2 separate regions of the Homo sapiens genome follow, and region 1 is reported to be linked to region 2. Evidence: microRNA targets listed by miRTarBase, many of them from high-throughput screens and not tested one by one. Region 2 holds a microRNA gene; the other region holds the end of a gene's coding sequence.
Evidence for each region. The annotated mature microRNA hsa-miR-6845-3p reads CCUCUCCUCCCUGUGCCCCAG and lies in region 2 at 1,608-1,628, opposite strand. An mRNA with a match to its seed (bases 2 to 7 or 8) in the 3' UTR can be bound and repressed. Matches are read on the target gene's strand: a 7mer-m8 pairs with bases 2 to 8, a 7mer-A1 pairs with bases 2 to 7 and ends in A, and an 8mer does both.

Region 1: miRTarBase lists ATP2B1 as a target of hsa-miR-6845-3p. Seed matches in the 3' UTR shown: 7mer-A1 at 601-607.

What each region holds. Positions count from the first base shown.
Region 1 is chr12:89,588,262-89,591,261 of GRCh38, reverse strand. It overlaps ATP2B1 (ATPase plasma membrane Ca2+ transporting 1), which reads left to right. Exons shown (of 21, transcript NM_001366521.1): 21 at 1-3,000. The coding sequence ends at 278. Among named protein-coding and RNA genes, the nearest start is that of POC1B-GALNT4, 64 kb to the right of the region's middle.
Region 2 is chr8:143,836,149-143,839,348 of GRCh38, forward strand. It overlaps MIR6845 (microRNA 6845), which reads right to left and starts at 1,668; the gene lies at 1,608-1,668. NRBP2 (nuclear receptor binding protein 2) reads right to left here. Exons shown (of 18, transcript NM_178564.4): 6 at 3,166-3,200; 7 at 3,024-3,047; 8 at 2,869-2,952; 9 at 2,735-2,790; 10 at 2,532-2,627; 11 at 1,475-1,607; 12 at 1,259-1,361; 13 at 1,101-1,151; 14 at 891-1,026; 15 at 1-32. RefSeq lists an enhancer at 673-1,400.

The DNA.
Region 1 (3,000 bases), not on the chromosome of region 2:
ATGAAGGGTTAGAAAAACCGGAATCAAGAAGTTCGATTCACAACTTTATGACACATCCTGAGTTTAGGATAGAAGATTCAGAGCCTCATATCCCCCTTATTGATGACACTGATGCCGAAGATGATGCTCCTACAAAACGTAACTCCAGTCCTCCACCCTCTCCCAACAAAAATAACAATGCTGTTGACAGTGGAATTCACCTTACAATAGAAATGAACAAGTCTGCTACCTCTTCATCCCCAGGAAGCCCACTACATAGTTTGGAAACATCACTCTGATTGTAAGCTGAATGTTAACACACTAGCTGCATTGTAAAGAAACAAATTGAAACTGGGTCTTTTCACATATTGTGATGGACAAGCTAGTATTCTTGTCTTTGGACTTCAACAGAAGACACACTTGTACGAATGTAGATTTATTTTTTTAAAAAAAAAAAAGCAAAGCTTTCTGCCAGACTGAGGGTGCTTTTTGGGGGGTGGGAGAAATGAACTGACAGATAAACAGTAACTCAGCGTAAGTGACCTGTGGATCATCAGTAGTACCCAAGCATGGTCCTGAACAGTGTATTAGCAGAGCTTTAGTTTATCTCAGTCCTGGATGGGAGAGAGAGGGAGGAGTAAAACTGGGCAAGACAAAGAGCCCTGGATCGTTGAATTGATAGTTTAATTTCTGCTGTTGGCTGTTAATAATTTGGATTATTTATGTTTATAAATGATACAGATCTGTTTACAAGGTTTGTAGATACTTTTTTTGTTCCTGTTCATAGATGGGAAGCTTCCTTATAACTGATGCAGAGAAAAATTAGTCCTTCAAATACTGCTGTATTTTCAGGAAAAAAAAAAAAAGGGGTGTTTCTATTGAAACTGTACTAAATTTTTGCCTACAATTTACCTTGTTAAATATTGTAGATAAATTGCTAATACTAATAGCCAAATAGATAACACTAATGCTTTGTTTAAAAAAACGAAAAAAACAAAACAAAACAAAAAAACATGAGCAGTGGTGTTCTAATGAAGTTATGACATCTGTCCTAATTAGTTTCTTAAATACATTTACTACTTAATGGTTTTGAAGCAACTGTTTAATTTTTAAAATTTTTGAAAACTTGCTAATAACCTTTTGTTCAGAATTTAGTAGATTGTTTAATGCAGGACATCAACTACATAATGAAAGATGCTTGAAATGCTTTTGTTATTTCAGGCAAATCAAATTAAATCAGACTATCAAACTACAAGAGAACCTTAGTCTTTTTTGTTTTTGTCTAAACATGTTAGTTTAGTGATGTCTTGGTGAACTGTGAGTGAACTGTATTGATTTTTCTAATCTTTAGAGACCTTCACACAGCATGAGGGCTGTTGGCATTTTGAAAAAGGTTAATAAGTAGAAGCATACATGTTTTCCTTTTGTTTTTGAAACTTGTTTGTAAACATAAATAAATATGCCCTTTTATTAAATAAATTCATGGCAATGTTTTTTTAAAAGACATTTCAGCTTCTTTACTCAGTTCTGCATATACAGTGCATCAGTCTGTTCTCTTTGACCACAATTGGAATACATTTCAAGATGGTAACAGCCCCATGAAGTACCGCTTTAATTCCTTGCTGGTAATCTAATAGAATCAGATTAAGAAAATTAACACAATTTTACCATTTGACATACTCTTCATTGAATTTAGTTTGTCTAAAATAGTCTCACAGGTAAAAAACATAACAACAATGACCACCATTGTCTTTGATACATTTATTTTAATTCTTAAGTGGCCAAATAACAGATTAGGTAAAATGAGATTACATGAAAAGGTTCTAAAATGATATATTTAGATGCAATAATTAACCATATGCTAGAATGCCCACCTCTAAGCCAATTGGATTCTTTAGCTCTCTTTTTCTTTCCTTCATCTACCTTCTTCTCTTTTTTGCCTCTGTCTTTACCCTTTAGAAACTGGCATGTGTTAGGGCCCAGATTTCACCAGATACACAATCCTCAGGCTGACATAAAGTTTACGAGGACTGCTACTATAACTGAGAGTGCTGACCAAGCAAAGAAACATTTAGTTGATGGTGCTTGATATTTTTGGTGGGTGGGGGAAATCTTTTTCTCACCATCAAATCTTTGCAGTAATCCTCTGCAGGTCTTAGAAACACATTGGCTCTGTCAGCATTTGTAATTGTACATTTATTCATCAGGTATTTATAGTGAATCATACTGTAAAAAAGAGGTAGCATGATATGCTGGAAAGCATATTAGACTAGGAGTCAAGACCTGGTTTCTAGTCTTGGTTTTGCCATTAATGTGCTGCATGATCTTGGGAAAATCATTTACCCTAAATAAGGGTGGTGGACTATCTTGAAGAACCCTTTCAACTCTAAAAATTGACCCTATCAACTGGAGAGCCCACAAGGCATAGGGAATAGAGAAAAGGGAAATGTTTTCAGTTTTCTTTTTTATTTTGGTTATGCTTAAATATGAATGTAATTACCAAAAGATTTAGAAGTGCATGTGCTTTGGAGGATTTGTATTGAGCTTTTACAGTATTCATTTTTCAACTCAAGGCAATGGCTTTCTACACCAACTCTAATCCATAAACGGGTCTTATGACATCTATGAAGTAGTAGCAAGACATGCTTAGTGTGTATTTCTCTCTTTGAGACACTGTAATTTCTACCAGAAATTTCCAGAGCATTATGTAGGTAGAAAAAAATGCAAGCAAGCTGTTAAAGATCTTGGATCCCATTATATAGTATGTATAGCTGAAATCTGTAATTCAATCACTTTTTCTCTTTTATCCTCTAACCAAAAAATTGTTTAATTTTGCATCCCAAATGTTTTTAATCTTTGTATATTTTTTAAAAATCCTTTTCTCCTCATCATTGCCTTTTTTGTGGTTGTAAATAGACTTACTTGCACTTTGAAGATGAGTTACTCCTTGTCATCTTACAAATATGTGATATGGTAATTTTCATAACAGATGTCAGTTTTGAACCAAGAATTGGTGATTTG
Region 2 (3,200 bases):
CTTCTCTCCAGGTTGCACTGCATCTGGATGACCTGCAGCGGGGGAAGGCTGGGACTCACAAACCCAGCAGCAAGACCACATGCCGCGGCCCCAAAGGGGCCGGGAAGGGACAGCAAAGACTGGAAAGGGGGGAATCTCTAAGAGGAGCCCATCTCACTGCTAGTGGCTTGGCAAGCTAAGGAAAGCTTCGAGAAGAGTCGACATTAGGGGCTGGGTACTGAAGGCTGAATAGGAGCTTTCACCGCGGAGAGAACAACTTGAACAAAGAGGGAACTGTGGGCGTGGGGAAAGGGAGGTTGGGCGGGACAGGACCGCGCCGAAGTGCACGGTGCCTGCGGGATCAGGCCTCCCAGAGCCTGGGTGTCAGCTGAGGACTCCCATGATCTCTGCTGGCAGCCAGGAGCAGGCAGTTTGCCTGTTAGGACATGAATTCTGGCTGCACTGCACCGAGAGAGGCCCCTGGCCAGGAGGGGGTGCTGCAGGAAAAGTCTGGGGAGACACCAGGACATAGATGTCCGGGAATCAGCACCAGGTGGGGGATGGGAGGGGTGGGGGGGGTGGGAGGGGTGCGGGGGTGGGGGAAGATTGCTGGCAGGGTGGAAGAGCCCGGGTGAGTTCTGGAGGAAGGATGCTTGGAGTAGGTTCAGGGCAGGCAGCAGGATGCAGGGGAAGGATCTGAGGGGACAGGGAGCCTCCCGGAAAAGGAGAGTGCCCAGCCTGTCCTATAACCCCCATGACCCCCACAAGGGGGTCAGCCTGGATCTGGTCTCTGGCAGCCAGGAGGAGAGCTGGGCTGTGGGGATGCAGGCCCTAAGAGAAGGAGGGGCACCTCTTATCTGGCTGTTAGAAGGTCTGAGGGATGGCACTGAGCAGCAGGAGAGGGGACTCACCTTTCTGGTCTCAGAGTCAAAGGGCTCTGGCGTCGGGGTCTTGGCCTTTTGGACCTCCTCCGGGGGTGGGGCCAGCACACGGGGCAGCCCCAGGGGTCGAGTGGCTGCAAAGTTCATCAGTGGGTAGATTCCATTCCTGGGGACACAACAGGGTGGCTGGGGGTTCAGGCCTGACAGCTGCCTGGCCCCCAACCTTACATCAGTTCTCACCTGACATCCTCCAGGAATTTGTCCAGCTCCATGAAGGAGACTTCCGAGTACCTGGCATGGAAGTGGGAGGCACATGAGGGGCTGGCCGGGGCGAGGGGAGGGGAGGTGCGGGGAGGGGAGGTGTGGGGAGGGGAGGCTTCTGGGTGCTGACTGCTCACCGCCACTGCAGCGGGGGCCTGCGGGGCCGGGGAAGCTCCGCCAAGACCGCGTGCAGGTCCATGGCCTTGGTCTTCTCCTCCACCACATTCTCAGGCATGAGGTCTGCGGCCACAAGAGCATCAAGGCGGTGTGCTCAGGCCGTGGGTCCTGCAGGGCCCCTTCCACGTCCCAACCTCCACCTCCCCAGCCACCCCCCGGGCCGGCCTGCTGCTCACACTGGTGCTGGATGAAGCAGTGGGCTGCCAGGAGCTTCAGCGAGTGCACCTCGAAGAGCACGCGGTGGAAGAGGAGGCTGTGGGCAGAGGGCCGGCGGGCAGGGTCCCGGGCCAGGCAGCAAAGGATGAACTCCTGGGGCACAGGGAGGAGAGGCTGGTGGTGTGCAAGGGCTCTCTGCTCTGGCCCCGCAGTTCGAGGAGAGGTGGCCCCTGAGTTCCCCATGTCCCTCCTCAGGGACACACAGGACATGCAGGGATGCCCATAGGGAGGAGTCCCAGCAGCAGCAGCCAGGCCAGGACCTGGTCCTCTGAGCTTGAGGACAGCTGGGTTCTGGGATTGGAGCACCATGCTCTGCTTCCCTCGACCCCCAAAAAATCGTGGGGAGAAGCCATGATCCTAAAGTCACACCTGCAAGCCTCCTACCCATGGCCTTTTGATCGGCTCAGCTCGGGCCCAACACTGGAGACGACCTTGATGGGTCCCCACTCTGTCCACATCCGTGCCCAGCCCGGCTCCAGCTCGCCACCAGCCCCGACCAGGCACCCCCATCTCCTGAGGCCATGGAGTTAAGTCTAGACTCCGAGCAGAGGGGGCTGTGGATGCAGCTTCCATCCCATACCTCTTTTTGCCTGCTTGGCACCCACCATGTCCCCCCACAAGCTGGAGCCTCATCACCTCCTGGAAGCTTAAAGTCAAGGACTTGGAGTGAAGCAGACCCAGGTGCAGATGTTGGCTCCACCACTCACTCTAAAGCCTTGGGCAAAGGACTCATCTCCTCTGAACCTTGGTTTCTTTATAAAACGGGCATGGTGATGGCAGCCACAGAGGGAGGGTCTCTCTTGCCTTCTTGTCCTTAGAATGTGCTGACCCCTTAGGGCCTTCAGGCCTGGAACCAGTATGTGCTCCCACTGAGGTCCTCTTTGGGAGGGGTGCAGTCAGCTGGTATACCCCTCAACTGCACAAACTGTGATGTTCTCCCAGGTCTGCCTGGAGCACCTTGCTAGCCCTAGCTGAGCACGGTGAGCCAGCTGGGGAGGGGCAGGGCAAGCTGCTTACCCGCATGTTGGGGTCACTCAGCGAGTGCCTGGCGCGAGCAATGGCCTCCTCTGTGACCCGGGTGTCCCCATTGGTCTGGATTTCCAGTACAGCCATCTGGGGCACAGAGCCAGGTCAGGCATGGGGAAGGGACCACACAGGTGAGCCAGGCAGGGCACAGTTAGGAGGAGGGCAGAGCACAAGGTGGAGGGCGGGGGCAGTACCTCCAGCGCACACATCCCAAAGGAGAAGATGTCCACAGCGGTCCCATCGGCCACCTCTGAACAGAAGAGAGCACAGGACACGTAGGAGAGAAGCGCAGGGTAGGCACGGGGCACCCGGACCCAGCACCACTCACCTCCATACTCTGGGGGGAAGAAGTGCAGGTTCCGAAGTTCCTCTCGCTCAGCGCGGATGGGGCTTCGGAGATCATCTGGAAGTGCTGTGGGAGGGCGCAGAGCTGAGCGGGCGGGGACCTCTCCAGGACCCCGTCCCCCCAAAGTCCGCACTTACCATTGGAGAAGATTCGGTGCCACACTGCCAAGGGGCGGGAGAAAGAGTGGAGTTAGCTGCTGGGGCATCAGAACTCCTCTGCCCTTGGCTCCAGGCACCTTCCCCTGCCCCGTTCCCCCACCCAGCCCTGCCCCGCCAGCACCGGAGCCGATCTTGATGAGGCCGTTGTGCTGAATG